Linked DNA regions of Homo sapiens: all the other regions are linked to region 2. Evidence: fine-mapped expression QTL. A gene starts in region 2. Each other region holds a variant in brackets. All regions are shown on one strand. Distances are between the middles of the regions. Region 1 overlaps KCNQ3 (potassium voltage-gated channel subfamily Q member 3). Region 2 holds the start of KCNQ3 (potassium voltage-gated channel subfamily Q member 3). Region 3 overlaps DNAAF11 (dynein axonemal assembly factor 11).

Region 1 (4,240 bases), 61 kb before region 2:
CTTCCAGAGGAGATTTCCTGAGATCACCGGGATTGGATCAGGGACACGACACTTAGCATGCTGGCACTGTGATTGGGAATAAGAAGGCAGTGCTGGTTTTTTTCTGAGTAAGAACATATTACCCACACTGAGTGACCCACACGAAAACAAGGAGGAAACAATTACTTTGAAGCCTGAGGACAAGATAAATATAAACTCAGACCATAGGCTTTCTGAAGAGGAGCGGCATTAACTGGCAGCCAGCAAGAAGGGATCTGTGACAGAGCTGAGGAAACATCCGTGGCTCTGTGTGGGTTTAATGAGGCGTGCTCACGGAAGGCTGGCAGGAGAGCAGAAAAAAGCAGGCGAGGGAGGGAGGAGCTCTGGGTCTCAACCCGACTCTGCCTCTAATGGTCTCTGTGACTAGGGGTAAGTCATTTATTCCCCACTCGGGTTTCACCCTCCTCAATTGCTAAATTTAAAAAGTAGATGGCCGGGCACAGTGGTTCACACCTGTAATCCCAGCATTTTGGGAGGCCAAGGCAGGTGGATCACTTGAGACCAGGAGTTCAAGACCTGCCTGGACAACATGATGAAACATCGTCTCTACTAAAAATATAAAAATTAGCCAGGTGTGGTGGTGCGTGCCTGTAGTCCCAGCTACTTGGGAGGCTGAGGCCAGAGAATCACTTGAGCTGGAGAAGCAGAGGGTGCAGTGAGCCGAGACCATGCCACCGGACTCCAGTTTGGGCAACAGAATGAGACTATGTCTCAAAAAATAAATTAAATAAATTTAAAAACATAAAAATAAAAAGTAGATAGTTGTAAGTGGTGTTGGGGTGTGGGCACAGAGAAAGGTGAGGAAAAGCAGCAGGCAGCATTGTGGTCAGACTTCTGTGCAAGTCCTAATTCAATCTTTAAAAGCCATGTGACGTAAAGCAAGTCAATTTCTAAGCCTCAGTTTTCTCATCTGTAAAATGGGCATTACAGCACCTACCATAAGATACACAAAGATGTAAGTGATCTCCAGCACATGGGAGAAGCATGAGAAAAGCGAGGCAACATCACTGAGAAGAGATCCATCTAAAAAGGTCAATACAATGCCTTCCAGTCCAAAAGCCTAATACTTCGGGAACTAAGGCATGGCAGCACTCTTTGAAGAAGGCAGAAATTCCTTCCACTGCCAGGCTCCCTGCTGAACAACAGTGTTCTCTCACCTTGGCTTAACCACAGCACCTTTCATCCTCTCAATTTTCAGCTGTAAAAACTTTGAAAACTATTAGACCATTTGTCTGGATTTCTGGATTTGCAGGTCACGGGCATCATTGAAGATAGAGCCACCCTAGTAAAATGCAATAATAAATGCAACATTTTTCATTTAATACTGCTTTTAAGAGCATTATCTCCCTCTGTCTTACCATTGTTAATACACTGATGGAAAATTCACACAAAAAACATCCAGTGCCTGAGTCCTGATTCCTGAGACCAGACAGAGCCTTTCTTAGCCTTAAAATGCTTTCCAAGAAAACCATCATGGGGGCCAGAGAAAAGACAATGGACAGCCACACCCATCTCCACCACTGAAGCTGCCTGTGCCCTCAGAGAGTGCTCTCTGTAGATCAGAAAAATGAGAACTGTTTTCTATGTAGCCAGTAGATACAGGTGCTATTCTAGGTGTTGTACCTCAAAACAAATCTTTGATGGTCAATATTATTAGCCCATTTTAGAGATGAGAAAACTGAGGCTCAAAAATCCCGAAGTGACTTTCCAAGGCAACACAGATATTCAGCATCAGTAACAACAACTGATAAGTCCTGTAATTGAGCCCAGTACTGTCTTACCGGAAAACCTGCATTCTTCCAAACATGTCAACATGTCATCTCTTAAAGGATAAAACGAACAGCACTCCCACGTTGGAATACATGGGTACTGTCTCAGTCAGTTTGGGCTGTTATAACAAAGTACCAGAGAGTGAGTAGCTTATAAACAACAGAAATTTATTTCTCACAGTTCTGGATACTGGAAGTCCAAGATCAGGGTGCCAGCATTGCTGGGTTCTGGTCAGGGCCCTCTTCTGGGGTGCAGACTGACACCTTCTCCTTGTGGTCTCATATGGTGGGCAGAACATGGGAGATGGGAGAGGGCTCTGGGGTCTCTTGTACAAGAGAGCACTAATCCCATTCTTGAAGATTCTCCCCCATGACCTAATCACCTCCCCAAAGCCCCACCTCCTAATACTATCACACTTGGAGTTAGGACTTCAACATATGAATTTTGGAGGGATGCATTCAGTCCATAACAGGTTGCCCACCCAAGGGAAGGAATATTTGGGTGGGTAAGTCCCGATGTGCCTTAGAAAACATCACTGCAGTGTCATGGACACAGATGATGAGGGTCCATCCACCTTCTGGGCTGCCACAGCCAGAAGACCAGCCTGGCGACATCTGCA[G/A]CTTGCCCTTTTCCCTTGAGCCAGAAACATCCAGCACCAGGACTTGATGTCTCCTCGGCTGACACCCGGAAGTGTGTGGGCTGTGTTCTTTTTTCAAAAGATAGAGATGAACCAGATCCCAGGCAGCACATAAGGGAGGTCACTGTGGTCAGAACAGACTCACGGAGGGAAGAATCCTCTGGGAAAGCATAAGTGTTTATTTAACTGCTTTATGCTTCAGTGAATAACTAATTTGTACCAAACCCCAGTGTTCTTGAGGTGTGTTGATAAATGATGTTGCAAAAGCAACATGTTTCTGTGCTTTCCATGTGTTTTGCATTTCTGGAGTCTGTGAGGAGAGTCTCTAACTGGGGCTCTAGATGCTGGGAAGCACTGCACAGAGGGCCCCTGGGTTTCTCTCCTCGACCTCGGTCACTCCAGCTCCCAGACCAGCACATAGTAGAGATGTAGAGATGCAAAAAAAACAAAAAACAAAAAAGTTGCTTGGGTTGACATGAAATACATTTAAATTTTAATCCCCAAAGTAAACATGATTTGAAAGGTAAACAGGAAGGCATGACTGGCATATACCAGGAGGAGTTTGAGCAGGGGATGTGGGGCAGAGGTGAATGTTTAAACGGCTCATACAGTCAACCTGCAAACATTAGGAGGGCTTTGCTGTGTTTTCTAAATTTTCTGGTTAGATAAGTGTATGTGCAGATGTAATACACAGTCTTGTGTTCCAATTATCTCTACATATGAATAATATATTTTAAGATATTTGATGACTAAATATATTCATGCATGTGAGGGGCACATAGAAGCTCTCAGGAAAATGGTAGCAGTCTGGGCCCAAGAAAACGTCTAGGAAAATGAAATTCCAACAGTTCATCACAAATTGTTCGATAAGAAGTCTCAAGAAGCCAACGCTGGGAAATGGGAAAGGCTCCCTCATAACTACCAGCTGACAAAAGGAACAGGTGACACGAGGTGCTGGCAGGAAACATTTTTAAAAGTTCTTCAAATCTACAGGAAGAGCGCAGAGGAGCAGAGGAAAGACAGGTTATGACCAAAATGATGCTGCCTGACCTAGGGTGTGTGGGTCGGGGGAACAAAATGGGGGATTCACTTGGGGCAGATGGTGGGTGGTAACAGATGACAGGTGAAAGTGGTCTTTTTTTTCTTTTTTAACCTCAACTGGTGGTTCTGTCTTCAGCAAAAACAATGTGTTCCAAAGGAAAATGAGGAACAAACCTCCGTAAGCAGGAACAAGTTGGAACATATGAAAGATCCTACCAGGATGCGAGACACTGGCCTAGATGAACCCTCCACCTGGATCTGGCTGCAGAATCACACAGGAAATTTATCTTTTAAAACAGATAATGGGAGAGACATCTGGATCCTGAAGATGGGCAAATACAGACTTCATTTTCCAAAGGGAGCCAGGATGGGCCAGGTTCAAATCCTCATACTAGTTCCAATGTTACAGGCTTTCCGTCTCCCTTCCTCTTCTGGTGGGATCATGAGGCCTCTAGTGCTGGGGCTGCACCATCAGTGTTAGAAAGAGAGAAAGGTTATACCCTCCACTCAGAGCTACAGCCTTTCTACCCAGATGCCTGGTCAGTGCCTCCACCAGCTCACACCAACAATGACTGCCTGCCAACACCAGATTTCACCTCCAAACTGGCTTGGATTTCACCTCCAAACTGGCTCATTCCAGGATCGCCCTTCTCAGGAAATGACACCACCATCTAATGCAGTTGCTCCAATCAGAGACCCACGAGCCATCCCTGACTCTTCCCTTCTCTTTATCTGCACATTGACTTCCAGAAT
Region 2 (4,240 bases):
TTTCGGCCACCTAAAAAGAGCAAATGAAAGAGCAACAATTGTTAAGCCGTCTCTCCAACCAGACCCCGACCAACACCTGCAAATAGACACACACACACACACATACACACGCACACTCATACAGACACCAACATCCACGTTTCTGGGAAAATGCCCCACTCCCACCCCACCCTTCCTGCTGGTTCCTTAGTTTCCGGGAAGGCACCCTCTCCGGGCTTGGTAACCTCCTTGAAGAAACCTGTTGCTAAGTCTGAGGTCCTGTGTGGACGCCCCCACCTGGTGGCCGAACCTAGAAAAACGTCTCTAACCAAGAAAAACTGGCAGGTAGTGTAACTAACTCCAAGGCTCCTGAGCCCTTCCGACCACATCAGTCATGGGTGAATTGGAGGAGAATAGAGAGGAAAATCCACTGCTAAACGCGTGGGGGAGAGAGGGGGGAGGGGGGGTTGCCAAGGTCATAGGCAATTCCCTGCCAAAACCCTGGTACAGTACAGCTTCCTAGAAGCAGCCATCAGGATGACTAAACCAGAGCCAGAAGGCAGAGCTTGATGGCTGGACGTGCCCTGCCAGCTCCGAGATGGGTGCTGACAGCACAGATTTCCAATCTTGAATGAGGAGCACCCCCACCATCCTCTCCCCCCTCCCAAATACGGGTGGATTTTCCATCCCCAGTGGCAGGTGCAGAGGGAGTTCCTTCTTCCTTCTGGCCATGCATTTACATCGGACTAGCAAGGAGATTCTTTCTAGGAGAACAGTGCCTGGGTGCAAACCTCCAGGCCAAGCCCCTCACATTCCCGGTGCCCTAGGCCAGCCAAAGCAGGAGAAGCAGCAGCGACTGAGGCTGAGGGAATATCGGATCCCAAATCAAGGAGATGTTTCAGCCAAAAGAGTCCCCGGCCCCCTCACCTCCTGGCTCTGTGAAGCCCCAGCCCCTCAGTCTAGGCTTAGACACACACGTTCCCATTCACTTCCCTAAAAGGAATCCTAGAACATGCATTTTGGCCAGTCCCAGCTCCCAGTCAGAGCAGCACCAGGTTCTTCTCTGTACCAGTACCCAGCGATCAGAAGGGTGGCACAAGCAAGCGACACACACACACACACACACACACACACGCTCCCCACTATGGGTGGTGCGCACCCCTCCCATCCCCAACTAAACTCAGTGGCGATCCCAACAGAAGGGATCCACCCGAAACAGAAACACAGAGCTCACGGGAGGACCCGCTTTATCCTCTTCAACCCTCACATTAATTGGAAAAACCCACATAATTATTTTAAGCTTCCAAACCAACACCCCTAGAAGATGTCATAAATGTGCACCCGCGCGCGCACACATCCGCCCAAATCAGCAGGGGAACCACGCTTCGTTTTTTAAGCCCCTAGTGTGGAACACCCGGAGAGCGGCAACACACACACACACACACACACACACACACACACACACACACACCCAGGGAAACGCGTGCTGAGGACGGGCTGGTCTCCCCTTCAGCGGGAAAGCATCCATGGGTCTTAAAGCCCCAGAGACTTCTCAGCTCCAGCCCCGACCCCAAGTCCCCAAGCGCGCCGCCGCCGAGGGCGCCCCGAGCGGCCGGGTACTCACACCAACGCGTGGTAAAGCAGCGCCCAGCCCCGCGGTCTCTCCAGGGCGTCGTAGATCAAAGTTTGGATGCGCCGGTACTTGGCGTTGTTTCTCTTGACTGGGCGGCTCAGCGGGGTCTTGGCCAGGAGCCCGATGCCCTGCGGGGTCCTCCGCTGCCCCTCGTCGCGGCCGCCGCCCTCCAGCAGCAGGGTCCCGTCTTTGTCGGCTCCGGCCCCGAGCGCCAAGGTGACTTGCTCCACGTCGCCGGGCGCCAGCCCCACTTTCCGCTCCTCGTCGCCGGCCGCCGCCGCGTCCCCTCCGGCTGGGTTAGCCGCCCCGCCGCCTCCGCCGCCCCCGTCGCCGCCGCCGCCAGCCGCCCCCGCCGCCCTGCGCGCCTTGAGCCCCATCTGCCTCGCCCCCGCCGGCCGCTTCGCCTTCTCCGCTGCTGCTCTGGGAAGAAGGGGCGCTCGGGGTGCGTGAACGAGGCGGCGGCGGCGGCTGCAAGCCCGGGAACTCCAATGCCATGATCCGCGCGCCCCTCCCCACCCCCCCCCAAAAGCAGGCAAAGGCGGGCCCCCTGGGGGGCAGGGGAGGCCAGGCAGGGGGTCAGGGGGTCACATCCCGCGCGGGTCAGCCGCAGGACCCCGAGGGTCGCGGGCCGGGGGCTGCGGAGAAGCTGGGAGGGCGCGCGAGGCTGGCGCGGAGGCGCTAGGGCGCGCGGCGGCGGGAGCCTGGAACCGGCGCTCCGGGGCGGCGGCGGCGGCGGCGGCACCCAGGCCGGCGAGCCCAAGACAGCATCGCAGTTTATTTACAAGCCCGGTGCCAGCCGCCCTCCCGCCCGCCAGCCACACGCGCCGCCGCCGCCGCCTCCTCCCTCCTCCGCGCTCCCACCCGCGCCCCTCCCCGCCCGTTCCAGCCTCAGCCTGTCAGCAGCAGCAGCAGCGAGCGCGCCGCGGGCCGAGAGCACGCCGCGTCCCTCCCTCCCTCCTTCCCCGGGGTGGGGCCCCATTGTCCCGCCCCGTCGCGGCGGGAGGCCCGGGCGGCGGCGCCCCGCCTCTTCCCGCCGACCCCCACCGCTGATTGTCTGGGGACCCAGGATCGCCTGGGCTACCGCCGCCCCCGTTGCAACCAGGCAGTGCGCCAGGCGGCTGCAGAGCCCGGCTCCTGGAGCTCCCGTGGGCGTTGGGGCTTCCCCTGGATGGGGCGTGACGGCGGGCAGTTGGGGGAAGAAGAGGAAGGGAGGAGGGACTGGGGGGTTGTCGCCCACCAAACATTGGCTCTGTGGTTGCAGCTTTGTGAATTTCCCTCACCCCCTACCCCTGCTCCTCGGCTTCAGAGGTAAAAGCCAAGTTGTCGGGTTGGTCAAGGCCGGGCGCACCGCGAACGCACCTGCTCTGTGGTAGCGAAGCTCGTGACTCCCTCTTCCCTCTTCCCTCTTCCCTCTTCCCTCTAGTTCGTGGTTCATGGTGGATGCCGCGGCCCTCTCCTCCCCCAATCTTTGAATAGCACCTTCACCTGTCTGGGTGGGCAAAGGACTGAAGAAATGCAGTCAGAATCTTTGATTCCTGCTTTGCTCCCGACTTGCACCCAAGCCAGTCATTCCCTCTCTGGTCCAAATTTCAATTCAATCAACCAATCTGTAACCCCTCGTGAGCTTCCCTGGCAAAGGGTAGTGATCTCTGTCCTGAAGATATGAGGTCTCTGCACTCCTAAGACCTCCGTCCTAGCCGGTGGAAGACAATGAAAAGACAAATTTTAACAGTAGAATTTCCGATATTGGTAAATAGTATGTGGTAACAAATTAGAGTGCTGCGCTATAGTGACTGGGGGAGTCACTCTAAACCGGCTGGTCGTGGAAGGCCTTATTGTGGAGGTGATGCTTCGAGGTGAGACCCTAATGACAAGCTGGGAGCAACTATGTAAATGTCCAGAGAGCCCTCCAAACAGCAGAACAGCGGGTGCGGAGGGGAAGGGTGGCTTGAGCTTAATGAGAGTAGGCCACAGGCAAAGGCTAGATCTTGTAAGACACTGACAAAGGACAGGAGCATCCTGCACTTCTTCCATGCCCACCGCCATCGGGGAAGCCTCCATTCCTGCTGCCCCATGGCATCTGTGGCCTCCTTTCCTTCCCACTCTCTCACCTCATGTCTGTCAGCTGGGGTGAGAGACATGGGGTGAGGGGAGACCCTGTGAACAAGGCCGAGGATCTATCCCTAGTGTATAAGAAAAGAGGAATCAGACCTGCAAGAACACCAGCTCTGGATTTGCCTGGAGAAGTTGGCCAAGGAGAGCATAGGAGACAGGGAAGGGAAGAAGGAAGGGAAGGGAGTAGGAATGTATGGGCTGGGGCAGGGGAAGGGTCAGAGAACCACCACCCTATAGAATGACTATCAAAGGGGAGAACCTCAAAAGAGGTCTCCAAATCAAGAAGGGAGGAGTTTCCAGAGGAAGTTAAACTGTAAGACTGAAATCATTAAAACAGTGTGGGATCGGTACAAAAATAAACTCTCAGTGCAACAGAATTCTTTGTCCAGAAACAGACTCTAGCATGGGAACTTAATATTAAACGGGAAGAGTTCATGACAAGAACCCCAGGGGAAAAGGCTGTTCACTGGTTGATGGGTTTTGTGAGGAATTATAGGAAATAGCATATGGAAA
Region 3 (4,240 bases), 120 kb after region 2:
CCATTTGACCCAGTCATCCTACTACTGGGTATATACCCAAAGGATTATAAATCATGCTGCTACAAAGACACATGCACACGTATGTTTATTGCAGCACTATTCACAATAGCAAAGACTTGGAACCAACCCAAATATCCATTAATGATAGACTGGATTAAGAAAATGTGACACATATACACCATGGAATACTATGCAGCCATAAAAAAGATGAGTTCATGTCCTTTGTAGGGACATGGATGAAGCTGGAAACCATTATTCTCAGCAAACTATCACAAGGACAAAAAACCAAACACCGCATGTTCTCACTCATAGGTGGGAATTGAACAATGAGAACACTTGGACACAGGAAGGGGAACATCACATACCGGGGCCTGTCATGGGGTGCGGGGAGGGTGGAGGGATAGCATTAGGAGATATACCTAATGTAGATGATGAGTTAATGGGTGCAGCACACCAACATGGTGCATATATACATATGTAACAAACCTTTACGTTGTGCACATGTGCCCTAGAACTTAAAGTATAATAATAATAATAATAAACTATCTCTGCTAAATTCTTCCTTTATTCTCCATATGACACTAACTAAACATGTTAGACCTTCTCACTCTATTCTATGTGTTCTTACTGTCTTCGTTAATATTTTTTTTTCTCTATGCTTCATTCTGGATCTCATCTTCTTACTTTCCAGTGTAGCAGTGCTCTCTTCAGCTATGTCTAATCTGCTGTTAAATCTACTCATTAAATTTTAAAGTTATCATATTTCAATTTTAAAACATTTTTATTTCATTCATTTTCAAGTATTAAACCACTTTTGTATTTTCTGTTTCCTTATAAAACATTTCATGCTTGACTATTGCCTCCTAACATAATCAGCATCAACATCAATGTCACTACCACCCCACAACAGGGAGCAGCCATCAACCAAGGATCCTCAGGAGCTGGTGCACAAATGTCCCAGTTCCATCACCCCTTATGTAGGGTTGTGCTGAGGTATGTGTTTAGCACTGTCTTCTAGAGTTTTCCCACCAGGGAAGCTGGTTTAACAGAGAACTCTCTATTGGCCGCCTTCCCTTCCAGCATTCCCATACTTCCCAAATAAACTACTCTACTGCAATCCCTATGTAAATTTCTGCTTCTGAAAGACACCAAATTAAAACAGTGTTTTACAGTCTGTTTCTAACAATTTAATGCCCACAGCAACTGTGGGACCCTCAAGGTTGCCCTCAAGGAAGAAGAGCAACAACCTGCCATAATCAAATTCCAAAACTGGACTGGGTTTCTACTGAATCCTACTCATGTCCCTGTGTGTATCTAGTTTATCTTTGCATACTGGATACTTAATTTGAAATATATATATATATATATATATATACACACAGCACACATACATACATATGCGTGTATGTTTGTAATATATATAATTTGAGCCTGCCTCTTCTAGAAAGGATTTTCACTGGGTTTGCCAGGCATGTGTGGGTGTTACTTATCCAAGACAACCTTCACTCAAGCTCAAGTCCAAGTTAGATAGTGTGAAGACAGGCTGTGAGGCCTTCTGATGACTGGTTTACATCTTATTCACCTTACTAAAAGGTTACAATCCTTCAGAATCACACCCCAAAGTGAGAGCGATTTATTAGAGTCCCCTTTTTGGCAGGCTCTGGACATTAGTTGTTTTCTTCCCACCTGTGTGGTCACTGAAGGATTCTTTTTGTCCAGAGGACAGTGGCTATTCACTATCTTGGTAGGTACTGGTACTATTAAGATGTTTTTAAAATATGTAGTCCATCTTCTTAAGTTCTCAGTGTGATTGTTGTTCCTTGTGACTTAGTTGGCCTTTAGCAGATGACAGAGCTCTAGAGGTATTATGAGAAGATGGTAGTATGTAGGAAGGAGTACAAATAGAGAAGAACAGAGGTCTCAGAATTGAATTATTGCACACACCAACTTGCAGAAGCCTAGGTATAAGAAACAACCAGCAATGAAGCACCTGGTGGCAAAGGACTCCAGCAGACAGAAGTATCTGGTGGCAGAGTGAAAGCTGTGTATTGAAAGCCAAGTGAGCAAGGATTTAAATATGGAGGAACTGTATAAGGGATAAAAAGCCTACTAAAAGGTTAAATAAGAGGAGGACAAGGGATGATCACCAGGTTTAGTAATCTGGAGGTTATTGGAGACATCAAAGAGAGATGTTTTAGTGGGGGGTGGGGGTGTGGGGAGGACATAATGCCTAATTGGAGTTGATTTGAGAGATAATGAGAAAAGATTTGAAACAGCAAATAGAGGCGTCTTTTTTA[A/G]AAGTTTTGCAATGAAGTGGACCAGGGCGGTAAATAGAGGGGGATGTTTTTATTTTGTTCTGTCTTTGTTTTTTAAGAGGGGAGACCTTTCAGAATGTTTTCTAATGTAAGATTCAGAGAGGTGACATTCAAAGAAAAAGTATAGAGAGCAGAGAACTGCCAAAGGCGGGGGCGGAGTGGGAAGTCTTTTAAAAGCAAGTGGAAATAGGATCCAATACACATCTAGAGGGATTGCATACACCACAGACAGTTCATTCATAGAATTAGGAAGGAAGGAAGGCCAGGTTGCACAAGGGGATATAAATGCAGATAGGTTGGTAGCCATTATGGTTAAAGTTTGTGGAAATTATCTTTTGAGGCTTCCACTTTTTTCAGTTAGAAATTTCAGGAATGAGCTTCAGTTGGAAGTTTTATAAATGAGCTGAGAATGAGAAATAAAAGAGCAGAAGTATGGATGAAACAAGAAAACCTAGCAAGATGCCCAGGCAACACTATAGACCCACTTGACAATCAGAGAATAAAAGTGCATTTGTGTTGGGTATATCACCAGTATATTTGAGCAGAGAAAAAGTGGAATGTGTGCAACTAATAAGGAGGAGGTTGGTTTGAGATTGTGTTTTTTAGAAGTATGGTCTGTATTATTGACCTTAATATGTGATCTTCACTTCTTATGCTCAGTATAAACAGAATTAAGCAAGATATTCACCACTGAAGTGGTAAATATATTTTGCTGTTCAGTTCACATGGCAACTTCCTTAATCTCAGTTAATTATTCTGAAGAAACACCCAAAGGAAATCATGAAGCATATTCTTGGAGTGTTCCTGTAACTTGTCATTTAAGAATTGAGATGGCAGTTTAATTTAATGACTTGATGCAAGTGAACAAGCCTCTCAGTGCATGCAAAATTCCAGTTAAATTTTAAGTTGGACTGTGGTAAAATCATATGCTAGATATCCTCCGGATGATGATGAAAAGATTATGTACATAGAACTTAGTTTGATTACACATTTTAAAGAACTTGGAATGAAGGCCAGACATAAACTCCTAGAAAATGTGATGAGGAATAACCCCAACCAAAATAGAAACTAAAATCATACATATAATATCTATAAATAAACTTAGGACATGTGTAGCAACTATAGAGAGAAAACTACCAACAAAGAAAACCTTCTAATGGACATAAAATAAGAGTAATAATGGAGAGACACATTATTGAATATCCAATTTTGATAATGTAAATACATCAATTCATTCCTATTGCAATCTATAAATTCAATGCAATCTTAATAATTATAAAATACTAGCTAGTAGCAATTGATATTATTTAATAATATGCATTACTAGCAATGAATAATATTAACAGTAAACATTAATGTAGTGTGTATTATGTCCCAAGCGCTGTCCTAGGTACTTTATTTATATTCACTTGCATAATCCTCAAAATAACCTTTTGAGGTCTGAATTACTACTGATATCATTTTATGAATGAGGAATCTGAGGCACAGAGAGATGAATAATTTGCCAAGGTCACACAGTTGCTGAGTGAAATATCAGAATTTAATTCAGGTTCTCTGGCTCCAGAGCCCATTCCCTTAATCATTTCTTCCCACTGCCTCTAAATCCATGGCAATAAAAATTCCAATGGTCTTTTCAGAGGCGGAATTTGAGAAACTCATTTGAAAGTTAACCCAGAAAAATACATATGGAAAAATAATCAGGAAATAGTTGAGAGGGAGAGTAGTTTAGGGGAGACGCATGTTCTAAATATTAAAATGTATTTTAAAGATACATTTAAGGTATTCACTCATTCAACAAAAATTTATTGAAGACCTACTCTTTGCCAGGATCTGTTCTAGGTGCCATTGACAAGGACAGACAACACTCCCTGTTCTCAGGAAGCTTAAATTCTTGTTGGGGAAAATAGAAAAAGAAATAAACAATT

Evidence for each region. PIP is the estimated chance that this variant, and not a neighbour inherited with it, causes the effect. A credible set is the group of variants that fine-mapping cannot tell apart.
Region 1: its variant is the best candidate, but not a certain one, in a credible set for the expression of KCNQ3 in sun-exposed skin (GTEx, PIP 0.52).
Region 3: its variant is the best candidate, but not a certain one, in a credible set for the expression of KCNQ3 in blood mononuclear cells (TOPMed, PIP 0.59).

The regions. Positions count from the first base shown.
Region 1 is chr8:132,418,034-132,422,273 of GRCh38, forward strand. All of the region lies in intron 1 of KCNQ3 (potassium voltage-gated channel subfamily Q member 3), which reads right to left. Among named protein-coding and RNA genes, the nearest start is that of KCNQ3, 61 kb to the right of the region's middle. The variant G/A (reference allele first, on the strand shown) is at 2,429.
Region 2 is chr8:132,478,544-132,482,783 of GRCh38, forward strand. KCNQ3 (potassium voltage-gated channel subfamily Q member 3) reads right to left here and starts at 2,552. Exons shown (of 15, transcript NM_004519.4): 1 at 1,604-2,552. The coding sequence starts at 1,989.
Region 3 is chr8:132,601,395-132,605,634 of GRCh38, forward strand. All of the region lies in intron 10 of DNAAF11 (dynein axonemal assembly factor 11), which reads right to left. Among named protein-coding and RNA genes, the nearest start is that of HPYR1, 42 kb to the left of the region's middle. The variant A/G (reference allele first, on the strand shown) is at 2,298.